7 separate regions of the Homo sapiens genome follow, and regions 1, 2, 3, 4, 6 and 7 are each reported to be linked to region 5. Evidence: microRNA targets listed by miRTarBase, many of them from high-throughput screens and not tested one by one. Region 5 holds a microRNA gene; each other region holds the end of a gene's coding sequence.
What was found. The annotated mature microRNA hsa-miR-3919 reads GCAGAGAACAAAGGACUCAGU and lies in region 5 at 1,479-1,499, opposite strand. An mRNA with a match to its seed (bases 2 to 7 or 8) in the 3' UTR can be bound and repressed. Matches are read on the target gene's strand: a 7mer-m8 pairs with bases 2 to 8, a 7mer-A1 pairs with bases 2 to 7 and ends in A, and an 8mer does both.

Region 1: the mRNA of CDC14B is a reported target of hsa-miR-3919. The part of its 3' UTR that is shown has no 7-base or 8-base seed match.
Region 2: miRTarBase lists C5orf46 as a target of hsa-miR-3919. The part of its 3' UTR that is shown has no 7-base or 8-base seed match.
Region 3: the mRNA of CAPN13 is a reported target of hsa-miR-3919. The part of its 3' UTR that is shown has no 7-base or 8-base seed match.
Region 4: miRTarBase lists PDZD2 as a target of hsa-miR-3919. The part of its 3' UTR that is shown has no 7-base or 8-base seed match.
Region 6: miRTarBase lists COPS8 as a target of hsa-miR-3919. Seed matches in the 3' UTR shown: 7mer-m8 at 859-865 and 7mer-m8 at 1,376-1,382.
Region 7: miRTarBase lists EIF4H as a target of hsa-miR-3919. Seed matches in the 3' UTR shown: 7mer-m8 at 2,045-2,051.

The regions. Positions count from the first base shown.
Region 1 is chr9:96,499,994-96,504,062 of GRCh38, forward strand. It overlaps CDC14B (cell division cycle 14B), which reads right to left. Exons shown (of 14, transcript NM_033331.4): 14 at 120-3,796. The coding sequence ends at 3,760. Among named protein-coding and RNA genes, the nearest start is that of HABP4, 52 kb to the left of the region's middle.
Region 2 is chr5:147,893,424-147,897,486 of GRCh38, reverse strand. It overlaps C5orf46 (chromosome 5 open reading frame 46), which reads left to right. Exons shown (of 4, transcript NM_206966.3): 3 at 446-503. The coding sequence ends at 494. Among named protein-coding and RNA genes, the nearest start is that of C5orf46, 11 kb to the left of the region's middle.
Region 3 is chr2:30,727,117-30,731,178 of GRCh38, reverse strand. CAPN13 (calpain 13) reads left to right here. Exons shown (of 23, transcript NM_144575.3): 22 at 393-449. The coding sequence ends at 419. Among named protein-coding and RNA genes, the nearest start is that of CAPN13, 78 kb to the left of the region's middle.
Region 4 is chr5:32,107,521-32,111,589 of GRCh38, reverse strand. PDZD2 (PDZ domain containing 2) reads right to left here. Exons shown (of 25, transcript NM_178140.4): 25 at 658-3,621. The coding sequence ends at 3,455. It overlaps LOC105374711 (a long non-coding RNA gene), which reads left to right and starts at 3,399. Exons shown (of 4, transcript XR_007058716.1): 1 at 3,399-4,069.
Region 5 is chr3:159,280,143-159,284,198 of GRCh38, reverse strand. MIR3919 (microRNA 3919) reads right to left here and starts at 1,553; the gene lies at 1,465-1,553. The region is part of intron 4 of IQCJ-SCHIP1 (IQCJ-SCHIP1 readthrough); the gene reads right to left. All of the region lies in intron 1 of SCHIP1 (schwannomin interacting protein 1), which reads right to left.
Region 6 is chr2:237,097,202-237,101,270 of GRCh38, forward strand. COPS8 (COP9 signalosome subunit 8) reads left to right here. Exons shown (of 8, transcript NM_006710.5): 8 at 462-3,273. The coding sequence ends at 541. Among named protein-coding and RNA genes, the nearest start is that of COPS8, 13 kb to the left of the region's middle.
Region 7 is chr7:74,194,784-74,198,852 of GRCh38, reverse strand. EIF4H (eukaryotic translation initiation factor 4H) reads right to left here. Exons shown (of 7, transcript NM_022170.2): 6 at 3,975-4,069; 7 at 1,757-3,684. The coding sequence ends at 3,545. Among named protein-coding and RNA genes, the nearest start is that of MIR590, 5.6 kb to the right of the region's middle. RefSeq lists an enhancer at 2,213-2,714.

The DNA.
Region 1 (4,069 bases), not on the chromosome of region 5:
CCATTATGGCCGTCCTAGAAAACTTACACAGATTCCGGGTTACCTCTGCTTTATGATCTAACCCACTGCCTACCAGAATTCAAAATGCTTGGTAAGTAACACAATAAACAAAAAGGCTGTTGGGTTAATACTTTTAATTACATGATTGTAATTATACAATTTCCACTATTCGATATTTTGTATAAAACCAGTTACAACCCACAAGATTTTCAAATGTGACAATATGTATCAAACTACATACATATGCAAAGTTTACACGCCATTAGGAAGCTTTATCTTAAAAATACCTTCAGGAAAATAAACATTCATTCAACCAGTTCTCTTGGCTTTAAAAAATATGATTAGAAATATACGCTGTAAAAAAAAATCAAGACAATGATTGATCAATACTGATCAGTTACATTTTAAAACTTTTAATAATCTGTACATGAGTGCAGGTTAGATAAAAGTCTGCAAATTATTAATAGAAAACTGCAGTACTATCATCGGATGAACATGTCTGCTGACAATTCTACCAGGTAATTAAGGAGGTAATTTCCTACACAGTATAGGTGAATTGTCCAGTCTTTAAACACATCTGGAGTCATCTCCACTGAGTGACATGGAGAATAACCTGATGTGGGTAAATGGAAGAGCAGCAGATAGCCTCTCCAGGGCAGTTTCAGCGGGAGAGAACATTTAAAGGAACAATAAAATAGGTTTTAAAAGTTGCTTTTGATGAGCACTGCTTTCCAAAATGCAATAATGATTTTTTTTAATGTAGAAAGAGAAGCTGTGTTAAGAACAGACATCCAATGAGTGCACTGCTTCTGTGGCTCCAAAGGTGACTGGGAAAAGAGAAGGCCCCAGGAGAGCCCTCAGGCCACACACAAGCCCAGGCCATCCCGCCCAGCCCAGCGAGCACACTGGCCTCATAACAATGCTTGGGAACTCCTCTAAAACTTGCCTAGGCCCAAGAAAACAGAGAGGTAGCAATCACCCCTGTGAGAGGGCTAGAGAGGAGGGGAGGAAGTAGGTAGGGGACAGGCTAGGGGCATCAAGCTCAGAACAGGGGAATTCTGGAGGCCGCAGAGCTGCGTGCTGCCGGGAAGCACTGGCCACGCCAGGCCATTCTGCTCTCACGAGGCGCTGCTCCTCACCAAATTCTACAAAAAGCTAAGTCCGTCTATACTTCTAGGAACCCAGTTTTGCAGACGCTCTTCCTCCGGACTGTCCCTGACTTTTGATAATTTTGAGTCCCCAGAAAGCTTCAAGAGCACCTAAAAATATTCACTTCCAATTTTAATTCCATCGCAAACCGTCCCAGTGTACTTTCAGGGCTATTTAAGGCTCTTAGGTTAAGGGGATCTCTCCATCTGACACACAGTTTCATGTTCCATAGCAACAAGGTCTTCTATAACAACGACTCTAAGTCAGAATTCCAGAAGATTCTGGTTGTTTGTGGTTTCAGTTGGGGGTGAGGGGAAGAGTCCACTCTCATTCATAGCAGGAAGAACTTTCCATCCCTCAGACCCAGAGACTTCCTGGATGCTAGAGACAGTCCTCATAAGTGTAACACTGCCCTTGCTATGCACACCATCCCAAGTCATTTGGTTATTACAAGGAATGCCTCTTCACCAAATCACAAGTTTTCTATGACTAATTTCAGTGAACCAGTTAAATAGAAAGATTTTTAGAAAGAGCCACAGTGATAGCAATTCTAGGTGGAAACTTGAGCAGGCAACATGAAGAGGCAGTTTATAAAATGAAAAAGGGCTGTGGTTCCAGTGACACCCTTTCTTTTCTTGGACGAAACACCAGGAGGCTCATTCACCGTGAGGGAGACAGTACTCACAAGAGCTGTGGCGCCTACGTTTACTTGTTCTGATGGGATGAAAAGCCAAACTAAGAAGGGATCAGATAGAAGCACGATTTTCACAACTACCTGGATTATTATTAATGGAGGGGATGGCCTTAAAAGGGGTAAGGGGAAGAAGAGGTGCCCTGAGAATTCAATGCTTTATGCATGGCACAGTTTGAATATTTATATTGTCTCAGCTCAAAATAGCAAAAGGAATGTTCCTCCTCCCACCCAAATCTTATTGAAGAGTAGTCTGCCCACAGCCAAGTGGGTCTTTGTGCCTATTCATTTCCAGGGACAGAAAACCACTGTTTTTCTGTGATCCAGTCCCCAGTGTTTAAAAGCTGGCCTGACCCCACCCGACAGTGCCTGGCGGGGAAAGAGTTGCTTGTTTGGCTGAGAACACGGCATCTTCCGTCTCTCATGATGCCGGTCAATTTTATACTTTCTTCCAAGAAAGTACACCAAAATGGAGGCACTGCCTTTCAATTACTTTTTGCATTAAAGACTTTTAACTTGTTTATTCCAACCGCTTTTATTTCTTCCAGTTTTGTGAAAAAGGCAGCTTCTTAAAATGGAGTTGCCTACTAATCTGGCGCACGCCTTGTGGCTTAGGAGGGCATTTGTTTCCCACTGCCTGTCGACATCTCAGCCCTCCATGCTCCCGGCACAGGCAAAAATGGCTTAACAATCATTAAACCACCCACTTCTTATGGAAGGAACTGAGGTGAGTACTATATATTCTTTTATTTCGGGCCCCATTTTTTTTTTTTTTTTTAGCAGCACATCAATTCTGTTTCTGTAACTGCTTCATGGCACAGACTCTGCTGTGTTCCAGTAGGGCTGCGGGAGAAGGCACTCTGCAGAGTTACTAGTTGTGTTCCCTAACCAAAGGCAACAGTGAGATCCAGAAGCAGATCATTGTCACTGAGATCGCAGGCCACGTCAATGGCCTTAGGTGGATCTCATAAGGGAAAAAAAAAATCCAATGTTACAGGGAAGGACTCTAAAAAAGTGGTAACTTTTTTTTTTTGTAAGCCGACATTATTTGGGATTGCTGTTTCCAAGGGGAAAAACCAATAGTGTGTTTCTTCCATTCATGGAAGGAAATATGATTTTAATTTGTATGACTGGCAACCAAACAATGGGCAGCCTCCCAGTTCTTCAGTCCCTGAAGGACAGAAAAAGGAACGACTTGCAACATCTTCCAACTCTGAAGTCAGTTTCTCCTCCTGAGTCTTCTAAAGCTACCATTAATATTCTCTTGCAAGTTTTAGGTTACTAAGGTACCACCTGGTCTTACAACATGCAACAGTGTTTAAATGTGATTTTCACAGATTCTTGTTAATAAAGCACTCTTTGGTGGAAGACAAGCAGCTTGGGTACTTAACAGAGTTAACATTACAACAGTATTACAAATAGTCAAGTGAAGATGATTAAGCCAAATAGTATCAAATTACAGAAAGTACCATTTCAGTAATGCCTTTTGTATCTTTATAAATTTTGACACAGGGTCACAAGGTGAACAGAAAATAAATACATAAAAAACCTCCATCAGATCCTCAATTCTTCTGAAGGCCAGCAACTACAATGATTGCCATCACAGGGACACACATGCACCACAGACCAGCCAGCTCCCTGGGTACCAGAGGGCTTGGGTATTTACACCTGAGACTAAATTTACAACAGCATGTTTGTCATTCAGCTTGAGAGCTGGACCCTTCTCTGAGTCATTTGCTTGCACCCAAACTCAAAGTTCATTATTCAAACTCCAGTGGACATTTTCTCCATTGATCAACTTCTTAGGTGGAAAAAGCAACTAAGGCTTTTGCAATTTTGTTTTGTTTTCAAATTGTGCTAATTTCTGTTGCAGTTTTCAGTCCTAGAGTCTTCCTTCAGCTCTGGTCACAGGTTTTTACTTAACGCAAGACTGTTTTAGTCCTTGAAATGGAGAGACTACAGGGGGAAAAAAAAGGATTTTTACCAGAAAGTTTACACAGCGTCCACAGGCAGTTATCAAAGACAAGGAGGGCAACATAATAAAAATACTGACATGCTAAAAAGTATACGCTTGCTGTAAGTTTCTAATGACAAATACTTTGGAGAAGACAACACAATATCAACCACAAAGGAAAGACAAACAGGAGAAAGGCAGGGCAGAAAAAGGCTCAGTTCTGCAAAAAATAGAAATTTAAAAAAACCAATACGAGTAAATAAAAATCATAAAAG
Region 2 (4,063 bases), not on the chromosome of region 5:
ATTTTTAAATTTTCTTTGTAACTTACCAGCCATGTGCTTTGGACAGGTTGTTTAATCTTTAAGCTTCAAAGGTTTTCTCACACATAAAAAGAGATAATAAAGATGCATTCAACAAATATTTATTAATTTCTACTATTTGCCATGCACTGTTCTAAGTGCTGGGGATATATTACTGGAAAAATATACCAAAATATATGACTTTATGGAGTTTATGTGTGAATAGATACCTAACTAATGGGTTTGTTGGCAGATGCAAAAAAGATAATTATGCATAAATTACTTGCCCACTATGAACTATGTAGAAATTTTAGGTCTTATTTCTTTCTGACATAGAAAAATCTAGAGAAGAACAGTGTGGCTCAAACATTATACAGCGCCTTAGTGATCATTCTAACACTCCTGTTCAGTCTCAATTGTAATTCTTATTTTCTCTTTTTTTCTCAAGAGGATTTATGGAATTTGATGATAATGAAGGAAAACATTCATCAAAGTGACATCCTCAGGTGATTTTTCACTTAAAATTTACAACTGAAATAACAGTGTATTGGACAAAGGAAAAAGAGTCTGTCCAGTTTTATTTAATAATTTTGGTTACCCATGTCTACCTACAAGCAGAAAAAGTACATTTTAAAAAAATAAATGAATATATTTTTTTCATGTACAAGTTTCTAATAATAAAATTTTCTTAAGAGAGGAGGTAGAGCTGTGAGATGAAGTGAATAAGGATGGCAAGTTTGGAGACCTGATTCCTGTCACAAATCTGCTAGGAACTTGCTTTGTACAAGTTCAGCCTGTGAAATGAGGGGCTAGCACGCACTAGCAATCTAAGGACCCACGTAATCATGCAGTTAGTTACTCATAAGAAGAGTGAAATTTGCTGAACCTAATTCAGAGAGAAAGGATAACAAACTTTCTATCTCACGCAGTTAGATATATGGGCAAACAATATAGTTTGAGTGCTCAGAAATACTTGCTTTTTCCCTACTCGGGTCTCTCCTGAAAATGCATATTGAAATACGAAAACAAAAGTGTTAGATCTGGAAAAGTAGTAATATTAGTAGCTGGTATGAACTGTGTTCTTACTCTGTTTTAGGCATTAAGCTAAGTGATTAATGACTAAGGGCTTGTAGTATTTAATTCATAATCACTATGCAAAATAGATATTATTATTCTTAAATTTTATAAATAAGGAAATGAAGGTTCAGGGAGGTTTGCTAATGTGGCTATATTGATAAAGGATGAAGACACAATTTGAATTTAAGCAGCCTGATTCCAAGGCCTGTGCTGTATCTCTAAGCCATAGTGCTACTGGAAACAGAGCAGAATAGTATAGGAGAAGGCAGTGGAGAATAATGATTAAGCTAAGTAATCTAAGTCATACCTCAAGATGTTCATAGAAATACAACACCACCCCTTTGCTTAGTTGAGTTACTTTATCTGCATATTCAGGAAGCATGGCCTTTCCCAACTTCTGTTTGTGATCTGGTCTGGAAATGCTCCTTTTCCCCATTGGCTCCATTTCATAACCTGGGTGTGATTAATGTAAGTTCAGAAAGCTACTATCATATTCCCCCGGAACTTAGCCCACCCTTTCCCATGTGCTTCTAAGGATGAGAATCAGGCTTGGGCATTGAAATCAAAACATGCCCAACCCCGACACTCCTGACTCTTACCCTAAGGCCAATTAAGCTTTTAAACTCAGTCACTTATGTTTGTATGTCTTCATTCCCATCTTCTCAGAGAACAGCCTGCCTCTTCTTGCAGGTGTCCTAATACTTTGCCTTCATTCCGGCTTCTGGTACACACCTATAATTTTTGGTACCCACACCCCAAATCCTTGGAGTACATCCTACAGGTCTGGTCTATGATGTAGTCTAATAGGCAAGGCCACATGGAGGAGCAGAAAGAACAGAAGACATAGACAAGATGTAAATTCAACTTCTAAATCAGCCACTTAATGGTTATGTAACCGTGGTCAGGCCACTTTACCTGCCTGAGCCCCACTTTTCTCCTTATGAATTTTTAAAACATAGGGAATCTTAATGCCATAAATTTTTTAACTGCACATGAAAAACTTGGAATTGATGCATGAACCAACCTAAGATGCCCTGATGAGCAGGGAGGAATGGCTCAATCTAGGGTTGTAATATAAAAAACATTAAACTAGGGAGAAGGAAGCAACTAAGGGAGAGACTAATTTTTGTATTCTTAGTAGAGACAGGGTTTCACCATGCTGCCCAGGCTGGTGTTGAACTCCTGGCCTCAAGTGATCTAAGTGATCACTTGGATGCCCACCTCAGCCTCCTAAACTGTTCCGATTATAGGCATGAGACATGGCATGCAGCCAGAATTTCCTAAATTAAGATAGGTAGTTGGATAGATAGATCTTATGTTTCTCTTATTAACATTGATTTTTTTTTTTTTGAGACAGAGTCTCACTCTGTCACCCAGGTTGGAGTGCAGTGGTGCCATCTCGGCTCACTGCAACCTCTGCCTCCTGGGTTCAAGTGATTCTCCTGACTCAGCCTCCCGAGTAGCTGGGACTACAGGTGTGCATCACCACACCCGGCTAATTTTTGTATTTTCCTTTAGTAGAAATGAGGTTTCACCATGTTGGCCATGATGGTCTTGAACTCCTGACAGTGATTCACCCCCCTTCGGCCTCCCAAAATGCTGGAATTACAGGTGTGAGCCACCATTCCCGGCCGATCCCTCCCTTTTTTTTTTTTTTACACATTTCTTTAATGCTTCTTTAATCCATACCTACTATATCAATCAGCCAATGCTACCAAAATGAATAACTAGCTGGCTGTTGAGAAGTTTATGGACTCAGCAATCACATAGCTCTGTGTATCTCATAACTGTGGAAGGAAATGATAAAGTTATGCATAAAGGGGCCTTGGGAATGCCTTGGAAAAGATAAGAAGGAATATCTGGAGGAGGGGATAAGCATTATGAATGCTCTACAAATAAGGTGAACTCTGAGAGAAGAGATTCTACACACAACCTGATATGATGAGTAGAGAGAGGTACAGTATTTGGAAAAATATCCAATAACCGAATACCTGGTTCATCTGAGAACCTCTCAGCCTCTACTGAACAACATTGGCATGATTTTTACTGGCTTTAATATTTTCAATAAAATTAAAATTTTAACTCCATTTGTCCTGCATTGTTTAAAACCATATGAATTCAAGTCATCTTTTTTTGTGTCTTAAGTCATTTGATATTTTAAGTATAAATTTTCTTTCCTGCTTAAAAACAAATTTGGACAAACCTCACTAGATTACTAAAATTATCAAAAGAGGTAATGGATAGAAAGTCACTTTATGAATTCTTAATTTTTATACAAGTGTTTTGGATTAAGGCAAAATGTACTATAGGACACACTAGACTTTTATGCTTAGACTTGCTCAGTCAGAACTTCCTAGGGAGGGATCTAGGAATAAGTAAGTCAGACAGGAAATTCCAGTGCACCTGATAAGCAAAATTGCCCGTGGCCACAATGTCACTTGATTACGTTTTCATGAAGTCTTATGGAAAATTTTTCTTTTAGAAATCAGGCAAAAAAAAAAAAAATATGCCTTCCCTAAAGTCAGATTCCTCTTTTCTGCTTATAAGATTTATGTGATGGCTGGGCATAGTGCCTCATGCCATTACAGGTGCCTACCAAATCCCAGCGCTTTGGGAGGCCGAGCGGGCAGATCACCTGAGGTCGGGAGGTGGAAACCAGCCTGACCAACATGGAGAAACACTGTCTCTACTAAAAATACAAAATTAGCCGGGCATGGTGGCACATGCCAGTAATCCCAGCTACTCATGAGGCTGAGGCAGGAGAATCGCTTGAACCAGGGAGGCAGAGGTTGTGGTAAACCAAGATCAAGCCACTGCACTCCAGCCAGGGCAACAAGAGCGAAACTGTGGCTCGTAATCCCAGCACTTTGGGAGGCTGAGGCAGGCAAATCATGAGATCAGGAGATCGAGACCATTCTGGCTAAAACTGTGAAACCCTGTCTCTACTAAAAATACAAAAAATTAGCCAGGTGTGGTAGCGGGTGCCTGT
Region 3 (4,062 bases), not on the chromosome of region 5:
GCTGCTTTAGGATCTTGGCAGACAGATTTTATTTTTTTCCAATAGCTTAATAAAGCAGAGGATTATGTGGGAGTCATAAATCCAGGAGGGAACAGAAGGACAGCCCGCTGAGCTCACTGTACATTAAACTTATTCCCATTGAGTTTTAGAGGCTCCTGACCAGCCAGCTGGTAGACCTAAGATATATACGTCTCACTGCCTGGTTATTCAGGGAGTAGCAGAAGATGTGCTGTGAGACAACCCCGCCCCGTACCCTGCTTGGGTTGGAATTAGCTGGAAGGGGTGATGAGACTGGACTGAGGTCTTCCGAGGGAGGAGGGTGGCATTTGCCCTGCTCTGTATTAAGCTAACAAGTGTAAAGAATTGTTGTAATGATGATGCTTATTTTTCAGTGGATGAGCCTGGTCATGTACAACTGAAGCAAAGAGGAAAGCAGACCCATGGCTCAGGTAAGACATGGTAGCTTTGGAGTCTTTCCCTCCTGGGAGCATGAGTCCTCCTTCCCCTCTAAGAACTGCACATAAGACTCTCTCCTTGGGAGAGCCTCCCCAGGGATGACAGACCCTTACATAAGTGAACCAAGGCTTAGCTGCTCAAGGCCCTTGAGTTTCAAGGCCAATGCTGCAGATTTCATGCAGACAATGTAGACCAATGGACCTTTATGGAAAGGCATGGCTTGAAAGGCATGAATGAGGGTTTAGAATCCTTCACTGCAGTTCGAAAGAAAAAAAGTATCTCTCATCACGGGAAGGGCAAGAGAAATGGTGGAAATGGAATGGTGTAGAGCAACAGAAATGGTAGAAATGGTCAGGCCTTAGGGAGAGAAGAGCGGGCTCTAGCCCCAGCTGTACCATTGTCTCACTGTGCAGCTTTGGACAGATGATGAACATCTGTAGGCATCAGTGTTTATCCCTCTAGCATGAGTGTGCTGAAGAATTAACACTCACGTCATTTCCTCTACATTTTTTTTCATGAAACAGACCCTAGAGTTACATAGTCCACACCCTAACCCTGCTGTAGCAGAAGCCCCATCAGTCTTCTAGAATTCTTTAGGACAGGGGAGCTCAAGATGTTGTGGTTCCCATTGTTGGACATCTCCGAGTGTTAGGTATTCCTTAGCTAGAGGCAATCATCTACTTCCCTGAAACTTTCTACTCATGCTTCTGGCTCTACTCTCTGGACCACTGTAGAAAAAAATACTGGACATGCAAGACCTACAAATATTTGAGGATACCTTTGCTATTTTGCCCAAAGCCTGTCTTCTTTAATTATTCATGTTGGTTTTCATCCAGACCTCCTGGTGACCATTCTCTATGTGCCAATATACCTTCGAAGTATACAGTTCTTCACGCAGCCGACCTGTGATCAATATCACCTAAAACTCGATTGTTTTGGTAAACAGTATTTAATCTCCCATTCATGTACCTTGAAGTCAAGAGACAGACACTGTCTCCATAAATAATGTTGTAGCATAAATATTTCCTGATGAACGCTTGATGCTTTCTAATGATCGCAAATGAATACTGCAGAGATCATAGTTAATTTGACCCAATCATATTTCCTTGAGTTCTCCTTTCACTCCTTTTTAAAAACAGAACATTTGATTATTTTCAGTTTTATTGTGTCTGTTCCAATCTGCATGACTTCTAATATCAAAAATGATTCTTCAATTGTATATTTAAGCTAATTTGATACACAGGGCCTAAAGGCTTAAACTTTCAAAGTAACTGGATTCTCTCTTACTACCTTTTCTCCGTACAGGGTCGCGATTCCCTCTTAACTAATGTTTCCACCCTTCCTATTTTTAAACAATGTGTCAGAAGGAAGGATAATATTAGAGGCATTGTCGTGTTTACTTCAGTTTCTTTCACTAATGCCTATCATCAGCCACAGGAGCGCTTCCCTAGCTTCCTCATTAATCACCACCCTCTGGTATCACATCATTAAAGCACTTCCACTCACTCTTGGCTTGTGGTTTGCTTTACAGAATTGGAGGCAGGAGGGTGAAGAAGTTCTGCCTGCAAATCTACAAACCCACCTTCCTCTGTAACTATCTCCCCACTTCTTCCTCATTATCCTTCACCTTCTCAAGGGCCTGATTGAATGAATTCTCTCTTCTGTCTTCTGAATACTAAACCTGTCTCTGTCTTCTGGAGTCATTTAACTCCCATTTAAAAATGTGTATCTTTTAAATTTCTTCATCTCCTACCCCTTCCAGCTAAACTCCACCTGTTTCCTCTCATTGCAACCAAATTTCATGGAAGAGCTCATTGTCTACATATTCTCACTTCCCACTCTCCCTGCTAACTGCTTCAGTTGAGATTTCTTTGACATCATCTCTCTCCCTGACTTTGGCATGGCCTCCCTATCTGATTTTCCTATATCTACTCATATCCCTCAAATCAATTTCCGGCAGCTGGACTACACTTTTTAAAATTCAAATCCAATCATTACATTCTCCAGGCTTAAAAACGCTTCAATGTCCTCCCATTGCTCACAGGAAAAATCTGGCATCATTAACATGGACCACAGGAGCCTGTCTCCTCTGGACCCTGCCCACCATCTAACCACAACTTGTCCCTCTTTTTCCTGCTCTCTACTCCAACCACACCATTACACCTTTACTTCCTTCTATTTTCCATGCTTTTCCCAGCCTGAAGCCTTTGGCCTTACTGTCTGCTCTGTCTTGGCTGTCAGTCACCAAACTCCTGATCCTTTATGTCTTAGCCCAGTTGGGTTCCCATATTATGGGTTCCCATATTATTCACTCACATATCACCCCTCCCCAGTCATAACATTCAACACACTTGGTTGTAGCCCATCTTCTTTTAAAGAAATATATTGAGATATAATTCACACATTGTAGAGTTTGCTCATTTAAAGTATAGAGTTCAATGGTTTTTAGCGTAGTCAGAGGTGTGCAACAATCACCACAATATGATTGTTAGAACATTTTTATCACCACAAAAAAGAAACCCCATGCCCATCTAGCATGCCCACAGCAGTTGCTCCCCAATTGTGTCCCACCCTCTAGCCTGAGGCAACCACTAATCTACTTTCTGAATCTGTAAGTTTGCCTATTCTGGACATTTCATATGATTAGATTCATACAACATGTGGTCCTTTATGACTGGCTTCTTTCACTTAGCGTAATGCTGTCAGGATTCATCCATGTTGTAGCGTGTATCAGTACTTCATTCCTTTTAAGTGCCATATAATATTTCATTGTGGCTTTACCCCATTTTTTTCATCTATTCCTCAGTTGATAGACATGTGGGTTGTTTCTAGTTTTGACTGTCATTAATAATCCTGCTATGAATGTTTGTGCACAGGTTTTTGGGGGGACATATGTTTTTATTTCAATTGGGTGTATAGTTATGAGTGGAACTGCTGGATCATACGGAAATTCTATTTGTAAATTTTTGAGGAACCACCAAACTGTTTTCCAAAGCAGCTACACCATTTTACATTCCCACCAGCTGCAAATGAGAATTCCATTTTCTCCACATCCTCAGCAACCCTTGTCATTGTCTGTCTTTTATAGCAATCCTAGGGAGTGTGAAGTGATATCTCACTGTGGTTTTGATTTGCATTTTCATGATGACTAATGATTTTGAGCATCTTTTCAGTGCTTGTGGGTTATTTTATATCTTCGGCGAAATGTTCATTTAGTTCTTTGTCCATTTTTAAGCTGGGTTACTTATATTTTTACTACAGAGGAGTTATAGATGTTCTTTGTATATTGTAGATACGAATTCCTTATATATGTGATTTGCAAAATTTTTCTCCCCTTCTGCAGGTTGTCTTTGCAGTTTTTGATGCCATCATCTGTAGCATATGAGTCTTTAATTTTGATGGAGTCTAATTTATCTATTGTTTTCTTTTGTCACATATTTTTGGTGGTATAGCTGAGAAATCATTGCCCAACCCAAGGTCAAACTATTTATTCTGTTTTATAGTTTAGCTCTTACATTTAGGTCTTTGATCCATTTTGAGATCATTTTTTATATGGTGTGAAGTAACGTTCTAATTTCATTCTTTTGCATTCATTCATTTGTCCCA
Region 4 (4,069 bases), not on the chromosome of region 5:
TTGAGCTCTGTGAGGTAGGATCCCAGATCATCCAAGTAGGAGGGGGAAGGTGAATGGGTAGGGTTTTTGAGAAAAAGAACATTATTGTGAAAAATGAGAGGAAAAACTGACAAGGAAACAAGTGCTGAGTGGCAGCGAGGGTCCAGTTAAGGCTGGAAACTGTGAATTTACAGCAGCAGCGTTCTGTCTAGTTGTGGGATTTTCCTCTAGGAATACGGTTATAGGAACCAAGATGCTGGCTATTTGGAAGGGTCCAGAATCGCCTGGTAAGACACAACAGTGGGGCAAGGGATCTAAGCCTGTGGGCTGGGCAGAGTTTGCTGTGCTACGCTAGGGTTCTGGTCTGAGAAGGGAATGGAAGGGTGGAGTTCTGATAGGGAGAAAACTGTCAAGGGCTTTTTGAAAGTGAAGACGTGGGAGGAAGTGACCAGGAGGCTGGGAGCGTGTGGTAAAAGAGTAGGATGTTCAATTGTAAGAAAGATTTAGAGGTGGAAAAGTTTTGGATTGTGTCAAGATTGTGAGTGTGGCCTGGAAAAGGGTGGCTAATTTGAGTTCTATTGCCTTTGTACCTCTGATGCATTTAGGTGACAATAAACATTTCTCATCTCAATATTACTCTATTATTAACAAACAAACAGCCAAAAGAGAAAAAAAAAATCAAGTAGTAAGCAGAGTGTTTATTTTTTTTAAAATTACTTAAAAAAGGTTGTTTACAGAGATGTGGATTTATATAACTTGGTGACAACATTTTTAAAATGTACAGGCTATTTCATATTATTGCACTTACTCTTTAATATATAAGGCATTTTACTTTACATAAATAAAGGTTAATGTATAATATCATACAAAGTTATGGTGCCAATTAAGTCAACCATCAAATTCAATGAGATGTGTGGGAAGATGGAAATGAAACCCAGCCTACTTTAATCTTCATGGTATATTCTTGCAACTACGGTTTACTTGTTATAACACATATTTATTTACCCTCATAGCTTATTGTGAATGACTGACCAGTTAAAAAAAAAGAAACAATGACAGTTTTAGTAGGACAATACCATTAGTGTTCACTTCAGAAAGTGTGGGAATTTATTAGGCTAATTAGAAATACTAGTCATGCCTTGAACACTGAAGACAAATAAATAGCTTTCTATCTATCTTAGGGTCAAAGACAGTTTAGCTTTTGCTTCTTCCCTTAAATTTCAACTGTTTGTTGGCGAGGGAAACCTTCTGGCAAGATGTAGTAGCAGTGGCTGATGACTTTAGCATAGTGTATGTGGTAAGCCAGAGGTCTACCCTTGTACTCCAGATATGAGGATTAAAAAGACTTGCGGAAGGAGACCATTCCATTTGCTCCACATTGCACAAGAAATTCCTGTCTGTTCACATAGGGCTGTGCGTTTATTAATTAATTATTATTAGGCACAGCTGTAAGAGTGGAGGCGAAAAGCAGTTTTCAGTGTTGTTGACTTGAAATAGTCTTTGATTTAGGCAAGAAAGCAGAAACCACAAAACTGACCCCAGAGACTGAAAAACAATCAATCAATATCTATCAATCAAGCATGCACCTTGCACTGACTTCCTACAGTATTCTACCTGTAACTGTAGTGAAAAGTAGAAGTAAAATCAATAAGACCTTTCTAACTAACTCCTGTACCATATTTTCCTTTGTATTGCCAGTTGATGAGAAATCTGGACTCAGACAAGCCAGCTATTTCTCTCTCATCTGAAGGACCTCTCTAGGCCGACTTCAAAGATGTTTAGTGGGATTGGTCATTCAGAAAAATGATGATGTACAAAGCTGATGGCTAAAGCCCCTCCATGAATCTGGGGGTCACAGCCATAGACCCAAGCTGTAGGTTATTTAAAGAAGTATCTCCAACATAAAATCTTAGTGTCATGCACACAGGTATGGCAAATGCACTCTCCACTCATGTTGTCAGGGCTCAACGGGTTGGTTTGTGCCACTGAAGACGACCTGGCTTGTAACTACATTTCTGCTCCTTTACCTTGACTCACCCTGTTTCTCCTCCTCTTTATGACCCGATGAGAGTTTGGAATTATTTACCTAAGAAAATAAGGTACATCATGAGGAGAGAAAAGCCAGCTATGTGACGACGAACGGAATATCCAATCGGAATAGCTACTGGGAAGCAGCTCATGCCACCAGAGGAGGAGTGGCCAGAGTGAGTTTCCCAAGTAGCGTGAGTCACGACAGTCTTCTGTAGGAAAACATTTTTGGCAAAAGGAGGAAATTGCAAAGCGGGAAAACGAAAACAGCAAAAACTTAAGTCACTGCAGTTGTCATTATACTAGGTCAAGAAAAGAGATCCAATACTTAGAATGTTACATTTCTTAAACATGTTGGGAAAGAGGGAAAAAAACCAACCAGTCTCCTAAAAGGATTCCATTAAGCTCCTCTATTTGGATTGTACATACATTGTCTATAAATCCAAGGACACTTAGAAAGATACTTGATTTCTAAAAATTTAGTTTAAATTCATGGTTGGAGTGCATAAAATTCAGAAATGGAAACCCAGTGACTGACTGACTTGTGATATTTTTGTCTGCTCTTGGACTGACCAGTCTTGAATTCAAGCACTTATCAAGACAGGTTCAAAAACTAGTTGTAAGGTGCTTTTAGATGTTGACCTTTCTGCTCCCTCTAAGCAGTGAAGCTCATGGCTATTTAATACAGCTTATCAGAAGTGCTATTCTGTAAAACAGCCTTATGGCTTACACTTTTGAGATAGAAAATGATCAATACTTCATGGTGATCAATAACCTATTGAGTTGAACTTTGCATACGTACATTATACATTACACTCACTAAAAAATACTCTCAATTAATTATTTTGCTTTTTCCTTTTTGGACAATTCCTGAGCTCAGCCTAACAGGTCATAATTCATTTTTTTAAGTAAGTCTTATTCTCTTTTCAGGGTAACATATACAGACCTACATCTCCTCCTTCCATTGAATGTGCCTAAAAGCATTCTGTCATTTACTTACAAAATCATACAAAATGATTGATTGTCCTCTTAGGTGTGACATTTGTGTCCCCCTCAGACTTTTAGTTCCCTGATCACCAGGATTGGGTATGTTGGGAGAGCTGGCAAGAAGGAAGCAAAGGTCTAGCTAAATGTTTGTTTGTTTCAAATAAAGAAGGGTGTGTCACATCTTGTATCCCCATCAGTAAACATAACATAAAGGTAGGGGACAGGCACTGGAACGAAGGAACCCTCCCGGCCTGGGTGACGCAGGTGGAAGGCTTCTGGAGTTAATTTCATTGCTGTTGCACATACAGTTAAGTCAGGCTTCATGTGTAAGCACAAGCTTGGAGATTTTTATAGTCCGTGTCTGTACCAGTGTTGGCCATTTCAACAACCTGTGGTTTAAAGAAGTCACTCTGATTTGCTAAAGAAAGAAGAGAACTGAGAAAATGATTCTTGTTAAAATTCATGAAGAATTCCTATGCTTTCTAATTAATAACTGCACAGGTCCTTCTGGGACAGACTTCATAATATTCCAGGCATCAAAGTGCATGAGCCCAACCAGAGGTTTCCCATTAATAGCAAGAATTTCATCTCCAGCTTCTATTATTCCAGCTTGTTCAGCCGCACCACCTACGAGAATAAACACAGAATAATTAATAGCTTGGCAGTTTCATAGTATTCAAAAATCCTAAGTAAACTAAAAACTTTTAAGTGATAAAAATATCTAAATAATATATTATTGAATAGAGAAATATTTCTTAGAACACAAAAAGCATATATCCATAAAAGTAAACTGGTCTACAGAAAACAGTGCAACTCTAGCCCTCCTGCCGCCCCTCCAAACATAATCTGTAAGATAAAAATAAACTGACAAGGGGAAGATACTCTCTATGTATTTAATCAACAAATGGTTAACATCCAGACTAAAGAGCTACAAGTCAACAAGAATAACACAAAATAAAGTTGGGGTAAGGAAATCAACAGCTGAACTCCAAACAGCCAGTAAACACAGAAAAGCAGGTTCAACTTTTTTTGTTGTTGTTGAGACGGCCTCACACTGTCACCCAGGCTGGAGTGC
Region 5 (4,056 bases):
TTTAAAGTATTTATAAGAAAAGACATTGTGGCTGTACGGTTTTATCAAGAATTTTTTTCAAACTTTCAAGGAACATGTAATTACCATGCTATATGAAATTAGAGACCAAAGGAAAATCTAGGAAGCTTTTCATTTTACGAAGCTTGCACAGCCCTGATTCAAACTTGAAAGAAATACAAACTACAGGTGAATTTCGTTTTTAAGCAGAGATGTAAAAACTTAAACAACATACCATAAAATAGAAATAAAAAGCAACATATAAAGAACTACCCGTTAAAACCAAACAGCAATACCACAATGCAAGAACAGACCATAACTCATCGCATCAACTATGGATAATAAGACAACCTATTTTGCTTAGGTTGAATTTTCTAATCAATACAATAAGACTTTTGGAAAGGAAGAGGCAATTTAGTATTATTTGCAGTTGAGAAAATTACATGGTTAACAACCTCGAAAGAATCCACTAAAAAAATTCTGAAGTACTATTAAGAGATTTTAATAAATTGAAAAGATACAAATCAATACAACAAAAAGCCATCGCTTCCTATATTATAGTAATAACCAATTAGAGGTGGAACAAAAGGAAGGAAATAGCCAGGCGCGGTGGCTCACGCCAAGATCGCGCGCCATTGCACTCCAGCCTGAGCAACAAGAGCGAAACTCCGTCTCAAAAAAAAAAAAAGGAAATAATCCATAATCCATGTACATAGGAACAATCATAGTAAGTAAAGTAAAAAATATGCCGGGCATGATGGTTCACGCCTGTAATCCCAGCAGTTTGGGAGGCCAAGGCGGGCGGCGGATCACCTGAGGTCAGGAGTTCGAGACCAGCCTGGCCAACATGGTGAAACCTCGTCTCTACTGAGAATACAAAAATTAGCCGGGCATGGTGGCATGGGCCTGTAATCCCAGCTACTCGGGAAGCTGAGGCAGGAGAATCACTTGAACCCAGGAGGCGGAGGTTGCAGTGAGCTGAGATCATACCACTGCATTCCAGCCTGAGCGACAGAGTGAGACTCCGTCTCAAAAAAAATAAAAAATATAAAACATATGAAATTTCAAATCTTTCCTGATATCTATATCTATTCGTGTTCTTATGCATATTTAGGTCCTTATCAATATTTATTTATCTACACAGCGTTCCTAGATGGTAAGAACAAATTTGCAAAGGTATCAGTTCTTATATTAGTTTACAGATTTGATGCAATTGCTATTAAAGTCTCTAAATAATTTCTTAACTATACAATTGTAGAGTTTATCTGGAATGAGTCTGACCATCCAAGAACATGAAAATATATGAAGTGGAGAATTCCCTGCTAGATATTAAAATTCATCATATAAATGTAATATTTAAGACAGTAAAATATAGGTACTAGAATAGACATGTGAAACCATGTCTATTCATGAAGGTAGTTCAGAAACAGATTCTAATGGATTTATTTTTAACATATGGTAAAGATTCCTGAGCACCATTTACTGAGTCCTTTGTTCTCTGCTACGAACTACTACAAACTAGTAGAGAACAAAGGACTCAGTAAATGGTGCTCAGGTAAAGGGTTAACTACTTGGAATAAAATAAGACTATTATTTCTCATTATGCCATACACCAAAATTTCAATGAACTTAAGACAAATGATAAAGTTGAAACCAGTTTTCAAAAAACACAAAAATATATAGGTGAATGGGATACTAAGTAGGTTTTATTTCCAAAAAAAAATTTAAAATTCTAAAGATTGAAATATGCAATCTAGGAAAATATATCTCACATATACGAATGCAAAAGCTTAATAATATATACGTAATATTTAACACATAAAATCTCAGTGAAACAATAGACAATTCACAGAATAAGTCAACATGGCCACAAAATGTGAAAATGTTAAGCCTCAACAACTAAAAAAGAAATTCAGGTTTTAAACACAGGCCACTTTCAATCTATTAAATTAACAGAACTAGCACAACAGTTCTAGGGATGTAACAATATATATCAATATCCTTAAAAATGTTATATAAATTTTTATTATACTTACAGTAATCTCTTGTAAGGAAACAAAAATATGAAAATATATGAACACTCAATGTTGACATTGATAACTATAGTGGCATAGTTCAATAAATTATATGTCTATGTGATTTCATATTACTCATTCACACTGTACCATAAAACTTTAAGAAATTTTAATGACACAGAAATTAAAATATTAAGTTTTTAAAAGCACAGTGAAAAATGTTGAAAATATGTTTAAGAGCTATATTTATATATATTCATACTAATACCTAGTGTATACACATTTCGGAATCTCCAAGGAAATTCACTGAAATGTTAACAATAGGGGTCTTTGTTGGATTAATGGTGAGATATATTTTTTAACATTTCATATTTTCTAAAATGAATATACACATTACAACGATAAATGAATAGGCATTGCTATAAAATGAGACAGAGAATATTACAATGTAGTTTAGAAACAATGCCATTCAAAATGTGTTGACTGAAAAAAAAGTAACCGTCCATTATTGATAGATTTCATTTATACAGAAGCCTCATTTCCTGTCAGTTTTTGATAAATTAGTGATCACTGTACTTTGCTCTAAAATGTAAATAGCTCCCTTCTTCCACTGACACAGCACAGATTTGTAGGTCTTCATGAAAATACAAAATGTACATACATTAAGAAGTGTAAGCACATTCATTCAAAACTATACTTTTTAGCTCTTGACACTGAAAATTTATCATCTTTTAATATATAAAGCATATTATTTTTTAAATATATGTGCATATGTGTTTTAGGCGCATATGTGGAATCCTATGTATTTGAAAATAATTCTTGTCCAAATAAAGTAAACCACTTAGAATATTTCGGTGTAATTATGATCACATAGCTTAAACATTAATTACAGGGAATGAATAAATGTTTCCCCAGATTCTAGCAGGTCTTCCTGCCTTTCTCTTCCTTCCAAAATCCCAAAATGAAGTTCCAAGAGGATGTATTTCTTTTTCCTAGCTTCTAATTAGCCCAGTCTTTGGTTTAGTTGGCAAGGGCGACTTTTGCATAAGCAATAGCTCTCTTTCAAAAAAGACTGATGTGGGAGATTGTGAAAGACCTATAAAGGTCCTGTGATCTTCAGTAGGGTCCATCCAAGCACCCAAACAGAAGCCTCCACAGCCACGATTGCCCCACATGTCACATAGGGAATGTATTTAACACATGCAATCGTGGATTACTCCCTTCCCATCATCCCTTTTCTACTGGCACAAGTCAGAGGTGCTGTTCCAAGTAGAAAATGTGGGTTTGCACAGCAATTTAGAGTGTGCATTGCTTTTTTGTCTGTTTGTGGGACACTGGAAGATAGGCCTGGCACAGTTCATCCTTCGCAAGTGCTTAATGCCATCCCTGGGGACAGGAATATCACAAGCCCAGAAAAACACAGCTTTTAGCCACTTGGTGTTGAAAATTTCAGGCAAAATTCCAAAAGCCCTCAAAGCTAATGTTGAATTGACAAAGTGCCAAAACCTCTCTGGCATTAAATTTCCACTCTTTATTTTCCCCCTTCAGGTTAACAGCTTGTGAAAATAATAATGTGATAATGCCACCCTGTGTTCCAAATATCTCGAAGCACGATCTTGTTAAGCTTTCGTGTCCCTTTGAGACTAACGGGAATTGAGCCGACTTATTCATTTTACAGATGAGAAAACCCTCCAGGAGATGAGTCAAATGTCTGAGCGATGGCCCTGCAACTTATCACATAGGTCCCAGGTCTAGATTAAATTCTCCAAACAAGGCCAAGTGTTCTAGGAAAGGACCTGAAAAGCTCAGCTAGCATCAAAAAGGGCCAGAGAAAGATTCATAGAGATTACTAGGCAGGCTAGTATAATAAACCAGTGAAAGTGGTGGAAACACACATTCCAGGAGGGGCAACAAGGCATAGTCTAGGCATAGCAATAAAGCATAGTCTAGGCATGTGGCCAACTGGAGTCAACAAGAATCACCATGGTCATCAGAAGATCTAATGTGACATCAGGGGCATTTTACAACATCAGGGACACTGGAG
Region 6 (4,069 bases), not on the chromosome of region 5:
CTTGAGGTTCTTTGTGGGTTTTCTTTTTTTTTTTTTTTTTTTTGGTTTGTTGACAATTTAATATTCTTCAGTGATGTCTGGGGCATGGGAAGCACTCTATTTCTTGAATTTAATGTTGCATGGGTAAGGATGTTTTCAAGAAGAGCTGTGATCTTTTAAAAGACATGTTGCATGATAAAAGTGTCTTTAACCTTTACATAGAATACTTCAGTAACAACAACATGAGACATGCCTTTACTAGCAGTTAGGTAAAACCATACTCATAAAAGTTGCAACTTCTTGGCTTGCTTTTCAAAAATGTCCAAGCCTCTATGATGTAAGATTTTGTCTAAAACCAGGACAAATCTAAGAAAGTTAACTTACTGTTAAAAATTGAAGGCATTAGGGGAGGTAGGTGTTGGGGCCAAAGCTTTGTTACTGTGGTATGTAACATGAAGTGTGTTTGTTTCTTTAACATACAGAGCCTGCTCCAGTTCCCCCAATACCCAATGAACAGCAGTTAGCCAGACTGACGGATTATGTGGCTTTCCTTGAAAACTGATTTATCACTCTGAGTTCAAGATTCATCTTCAGAATCCTGTATACTGACAAACGTAGAAATGTAAAGTTTGTATTTTCAATTTATTGGATGGCTTAAGCACCTCAGCATTCCTTACTATGTGATAAAATACATATAGAATATAAGATATACTATATACATTTTGTCCATAAACGTTATGCTGAATAGTTGTTGAAACAGTTCTCATTTTGTAGTATTTAATAATCTGGATGGAGCCTGTCAGTATTACAGTTAGTTTTCTAGTGACTCATAAAATAAGATTTCCTGTTTCATGTAGAATAGTGTTTGTCAACTGTCTTTTCTCTGTCCCAGCACATGCCGTACTCTTATATGTACCATTGGTTGATAATTATAATGATTCATTTGGACTTGAAGAAAGATTGTCCCCAGGCACAGTATCTGAATCACTGGGGATTATGATTCACCCTCTTTGGAGAACATGCTCTCTTTTCACCCCCCACCTCCTGAGAGCCACTAATGTAAGATACAGAAACATAGCTGAGGAACAAATAGACCATTTCCATACTAAACCAGTTTGTTAACTTTAGATTTTTTCCAATAGTGTGAGTATATCCATTGCTGGCAGTGGAGGGCTTGCCATGAAAATGCAACTTATTTAAGACATTTATGAGACATATTAACTTGTGCTGTCGCCTTTTAGAAGGAGAAACTTAAGTGTGGAATGCATTATATGGGCAAAGAAGCTATGAAGATACATGATACACTTTGTACAACTATCCTGCAGCCCATTGGTTGCTTATATTTATCGCTTGGCTCAAGTTCTGCCCTTTGGAGAAATACTGAGCAAGTCTTTCATTCTCTGTGTGACAGCCCTCTGAATATTTGAAGTTGTTTGTTGTAACTTAAGGTTATAACAGCCCTTAGTTCATTTACTCTGCATTTGTTCAATAAATATTTAACTGAATTCTTCAATTATTTCATCTAAGATAGTTTCTGGAAATTTCACTCTCGATCTTTCTGTGGACACAATCTATTTTGTCATTGTGTCTATATGAATCTCTTAAGTAGAAATGAGTTGTATGGTGAATCTGTGTAGTGATAATTATATAATTTATTTATTTTGAATGCATTTTAGTGGCTATTTCAGTTTTTCTTAACATATATGGGAATACTTTTTGAATTGCAATTTTATTTAACCCGGATAGGTAAGTCATATTAAAATTCCTTGTTTTACAGTTGAGGAAATGGGAATTCAAGAAGTCAGAGGATCAGGAGAGTGATCAAGAGAATGACAGTGCCAGTTTTTTTAACTTCCAGGTATTAAGTACAAATTGTATCCATGGTTATTTTTTAAAAGCAGATTAGAGTCAATCCAAATATTCATTAATAGGGGATTGTTTGAATAAACAGCAGTGTAGACTACGCAGGTGTAAAAGGAGTGAAGATCTCTATACTAAACTGGAATGATCTCCAGAGTGAGAACATAGAAAGCACATGTAGTTTATATGGTTATTTTGAGGGTAACAAAAGGAGAATGATTACAATTATATATATGTACATATTTCCTTATATTTCAAAACTAAGCAATTGGGGGATATATACAAAATGAATATAATAGTTCCCTAAAGAGGAAGGAGAGGACAGTGAACTACTACATAGAGAAAAAATAATCTCAAGTGATCAAACACAATATTTCAATTTTACATTGTCAGTGGGATATACACTAAGGACAGAAAAAAATCTTAGACTAATGAATGTGGTTTTTCATGATTAATTTCACAAAATCTTGATATCTTTTTTATTATTAAAAGTATAGATTAAATTAATAATCATGTAACATTAGACCCCAGTAATCTTAAATTTGACATGGAAACCTCATTATATGCTTTATTTTTCTTTGTAAACAGTAAATATTTCCCACTCCTGTCTACATGAAAAGGTCTAGAGTAATTACAGTTCAGTAACAATGAGCACCACTAGTACCCAGATGGTGTTCTTTCATTTTCATTTGCAATTAAAAGGAATCAGAACTTATTTGCAAAACAGCTAATAGTTCCAGGGCAGTAAGTGTACAAGTTCATATCTGGTACAAGATGTCCAGGATTCAAGGAGGCTCTTAAAGACTTGGGATTCTGTCAAAGGGTTATACAAGCCAACTTGAAGGGATTTCTACAGGCCATGTAAAAATGAGACAGTTTGAGCATGAAATATTTGTATATGTGTCTGTTTTTAACTCTTAATAACCTCATCACTGTACAAGAAAGGCAGGGTAAGTGCTTGATTTCACTTCCCTTTATTATCAGTTCTCAGGACAAATTGATATGCTGCCAATCTCTAAAGCAACAAAATCGAACCTGTAGGGTAGTCAAAAAGCTCATGCTGGAAAATTCCACCGAATAAAGATAAAAGTTAGAAAAACGGTACTTGCAGCCCTTAATGAAACAAAGAAGGGATCATGGAAATATATATCAATGCTGTTGAGACCACAGGGTAAGAAATTGAGATTGAGCATGAAATATGTCCAGTACATCCATCAGCCTGTCTTTGTGCTCTGGCTATTTCTGAGCCAGCCATCTGTGTACAAGTGTAGCCTGACAGCACCCTGTTTCAGATCCATTGGATATCTCTAAAATTTGCTCTGGGACTTACCCTGGCACTACTATCAGGATGCCCACACAAACCTGATTGGGCAGCCCATCAGCAGTTGTGAACATGACATGGTGAATAAACACTCTCTTCCTTGTCTCAGGGCAGACTATTTCCAATGTGTTCTATACCTAGATCCTCAAAAAGAACCCCCAAAAAATTGAGCTGTGGTGTCCCATGGTCATAAGCTCTCTAATGCAGCCTTCAATTGTTTTTTCCTCATTCCTTGTTTTACTTTTCCTGGTTCCCTGTCTCTTGTTCCCGGAGATCAATAGAAGTGATCTGTCTACATATCTTTACATACCTATGCTATTCTGCCTTGGGGCGGGGATCGGGGACCTAGTCAAATCAAAGGGAAGTGTGTAACACATGAATCAGACTGAAAGCACCTGAATTTAATTTTATATATATAAGTATATATATATATGTGTATATATATATATATATATATATAATACGTATATGCATATATATAGTATATAAATATATACATATATACATGTACATATATATATATTTAAAGGTTTAGATCTGCTACTTTACATAAAATGTGAGAATTAATGGAACAAGTTAAACATCCCACTAAGAAACAGCCAGTTCCAGAATGTGGGAAATTTAACAGGATTAGTGAGTTTGCTTGAAAAATAAATGACAAAAAGTCAGGGGGTGGTAGTAAGTATGAAAATGTCTGTTCCTGGGTTGAAGTACCTTGAGGCCAACTCAGAATTGTGTCAATAACTAATAGGTGAATACCCACATTTATCCCTTGAGAGGCATCAGCCCCTAAATCAATGAGGAATGTGGAGCTAAGATTTGAGAGTACTGCAATGAGGTCATCTGCAGCAGCTCTTTGCAGGGTCGGTGGCAGGTGTTTGCTGATTCCACAGGGCACAGCAAGATTCA
Region 7 (4,069 bases), not on the chromosome of region 5:
ATCTCTACTAAAAACACAAAAATTAGCTGGGCGTGGTGGCATGTGCCTATAATCCCTGCTACTAGGGAGGCTGAGGTGGGAGGATCGCTGGAACCCAAGAGGCGGAGGTTGCAGTGAGCTGAGATTACACCATTGCACTCCACCCTGGGTGGCAGAGCATGACTCTGTCTCAAAGAAAAATAAATACAAAATAAAATAAAATCTTAAAACATCCAGCCAGGCGCAGTGGCTCATGCCTGTAATCCCAGCACTTTGGGAGGCAGAGGCAGGTGGATTACCTGAGGTCAGGAGTTCGAGATCAGCCTGGGCAACACGGTGAAAACCTGTCTCTACTAAAAATGCAAAATTAGCCGCGCGTGGTGGCCCATGCCTATAATCACAGCTACTCAGGAGGCTGAGGCAGGAGAATCGCTTGAACCTGGGAGGTGGAGGATACAGTAAGCCGAGATCGTGCCATTGCATTCCAGCCTGGGCAACAAGAGTAAATCTCCATCTCACCAAAAAAAAAAAAAAAAAAAAAAAAAACAAAAACCAAAAAAACAAAACATCCAGATGTGGCCAGGGTCTGACTTCAGAGAAGCCCAGTGAGCCTGGCCCCAGTGACCAGCTCCCTGGGAAGTCTTCCTTCAGGTTTTAGGCCGTTTCACCACCCTAAAGGCAAGGTCAACCCGTGTTCTAGGTTAATCAGCTCTTCTTGTTCTAGACTTAATCTCTGTTAAGTAATGTCCTTCATTGAGAAAACCAGGCTATTCCCTAGAAATCACCAACTAAAAATAGATGTCAGGGCCAGGCATGGTGGCTTGTGCCTATAATCCCAGCAATTTGGGAGACTGAGGTGGGTGGATCACTTGAGGTCAGGAGTTTGAGACCAGCCTAGTCAACATGGTGAAACCCCATCTCTACTATACAAAAATTAGCTAGGCATGGTGGTGGGTGCCTGTAGTCCCTGATACTTGGGAGGCTGACAAGAGGATCATTTGAACCCGTGAGGCGGAGGCTGCAGTGAGCCGAGATCACGCCACTGCACTCCTGTCTGGGTGACAGAGGGAGACCCTGTCTCTGAAACACCGGTCCTCTCTACCACCTACTCTTGGGTAGAAAGTAGTTGAAGCAAAAGAGTTACTCTAGGCTCCCACCTGAACAGCCCTTGCCTGCCTTACTAAAATTTAGTCGTGGTCCGGGGTCCTCCATCACCAGACAATGCTCCTACCTCAAGGTAGGCAAGGTCTGCCTTGGCCAGGCCCTTCCAAAGTCAGCCAGGACTTTGCCAAACACGCATTCATGCCCCGCACCTTGCCCACTCAGCTCTTCTTTGTCTGCCTAAGTCAATTTTAACACTATCCAATACCAACCTATAGCAGCACCTCCCCAGAGTCAGGATCTGCTGTCAGGAAGCAGCAGCCCTCCCAGCCATGAGGGGCACCTAGAATTTCGTTTACAAGCAGTTGTTAAAAGAAGCCACATGTTGTGTAAATGCTTGATTTCTTCCATCTTGGGAAAAAAATGTTCCTTTACCTAACCAAAAACAGCCAGACTTTCAAGGTTTCTGCCTGGTTGGGAAAAGGACATTTTTAGCAAGTGAGGGGAAAAAATTGGCATCCTATTTCTAATCATCACCAGCTTTTAAAATAACTTCACTCATCCCAGAATTAAAATGACAGGAAGACTCTTCCATTTCAATGGTGCTTCCCAAATTTAAAATTGTTACATTCCATGAGCAGCTAAAAAGAACTCAAAAATAAAGGCAAGCATTAAATATTACGTAAGGTTTTCTTTTATTTAAAAGATCATTCACAAAATACCATATCCATAGATTTACTTTCTGTCATATAGCTGAATGTGTTAAGTGTTTGGAATTCCATTCTTACATTTAAAAGTCAACTGGATTGCCCAGCAGTTTAGATGCATGTGTTTTGTTCTTTATCTTATCCACATTGAAGATGTAAGTAGGTCATCTGAAAGCATCGGGTTTGATTACACCACATAATGCATGTCTTTCTGAAGTTAAGTGTTGGTGTTACACAAATGGTTCTTATCTCAGAAGCAGAGAAGCTGACAGGTGGAAGGAAGGAGAGAGAGTTCTGTGGATTGCTGAGGCCTTGTAACAAGACACAGTAGGAAAAGCCCAGGATGACGGCTGGTGACCAAATACTAAGCACATTCCGCTGGGTGCCCCAGGCCACCCTGGCCCTGCCATCACCTGGCGAGGGCCTCTTTCCCAGGCTCCTGCTGCCGGCCGCCCCCAAACTGCTCCCCATAGGACAGACTGGGACTTGGGTACTGAAGGATTTTTCATCTGTTCACACGCAGGCGTTCAAGCTCAAAAGCCTAACCCCTAGCACTCCCACATAACTGCTGAACCCTGCACATGGGAACAGTCCAGTGTGTCCCCAAGATGTGGCCGCAGACCTAGACAGCTGCAGTCCTCTACTGCTATCTGAAGGTTCCTGACAGCTCTGCATAGTACAATTTATCAAAGGAAATGAGTAAAGTGCCAGATTCTAGACCCATTTTGGCTCTGAACTGAAGGGGAGGTGGGAAGCACAGTATCTCATTATGTTGCCTATACTAGGAACAGATCCACACAACACACAGGCAACAGGGATGGGGGGAAACGCTGCGTCAGCGCCGCAGTCAGCCCAGTGCAGCACCAGCACCACCCCCTCCACCCCCAAAGCGCCTTGGCCCAGCAGAAAAGAAACCCGCTGGCCATTCACTGCACCCAGCCAGAGAGGCCAGCCTCCACCACGCACGGCGAAAGGAGTGAACTAGCTGGGACACACACACGTGTGAATGCATGCAAGCATTCACTGCATCTTCTCCGTGGACTCCCTACCGCTCTTCCATAGCCCCCCCTTTCAGCCTCACTGTTTCTCGTGTGAGCCTATCTGCTTGGACAGTCCACTCGGGAGGGGGTCATGGAGCCAGGACTCCCTCTAAATAGGAATGGAAAGGACCCTGCAGATATTTTTATCCTAGTTGTGAAAACAAGGTGCCTCTGATTCTCTATATCCATCACAGCTGAATACCAACAAGGTCTCTGCTGTTCCCTCTGTCAGTGACTCTGGTTTTTGTTGGAAGCCCCAGCAATACAGAACTCAACATGCAGGTCAGAAGAGAAGCACTGAGGGAATGAAAGGAAACGCCTGGAGTTGGGCCAGTGTCTAAAGTAAAGAGAAAGCAAAGGAAAAATGACGCAGCACCGCAGCCCAAACGCCCCCCCACGGCGGCCACCTCTGCTCCTCCGAGGAACCCCATGTGCTGCTGGGAAAACAAGGAGCAGGAGAAAAAGGACAGAAGGAAAATGGGGAAGCAGCGGAAGAAAGAAAAAAACGCACAAACAGGCACTAGATAGATACAGCAAAGCCCAGAATGTACTAAAAACCACTTGTTAACAGCTGACATGCACTCACAAGCTGTGTTTCCGCTGTGAGGAGGCCAATGGCAGGCGCAGGAGTGGCGGCTGCAGGACGGCTGCCCGGGGACTCACCAGGCTGTGGTCCTGCTCTAACCCCCCACGCCCCATTCCCTCCCAACCGCAGGCTCATTCTTGCTCCTTTTGAACGACTTCCTCTCTAGGCCTGGCACCCCCGAAGATAGCAGAGTTGGGATTGGCTACTTGATTGAGGGGCGTCGCGACTGTTCGAGGTTTAAGCTGGAGTCGTGGTCTCTGTGCTCTTTCCTCTGGGGGAGAAAAAGCAGAGTTTGTCAGAGTGTGGATCCCATTCCATATCCAGCAAAACGACCATGCTGATGTTGCTGTCAGCAAACCAGCCCACTTTCTAAAATTCACCTGGCCTGCTACCCCAACAGCAGATGCTCTAATGACCAAGGTGAACTTGCTATTCCAGAGAACGTGGGGATCTATGCCGACAACTCTGTGTGCCGTAGAACGCCAAGTCCCCACGGGGTGTGAACCGGCCATGATCATCCCATCAGGACAAGATGCCCTCCACTGACACATGAGCCCGTACCTTCTGTGGGTTCTCTGAAATCCATGTTGGATCCACGGAGGGGAGGGCCATCTCTGAAGCGGCTGCCCATGGGGGGGCCTGTTCGCCGGTCGCCT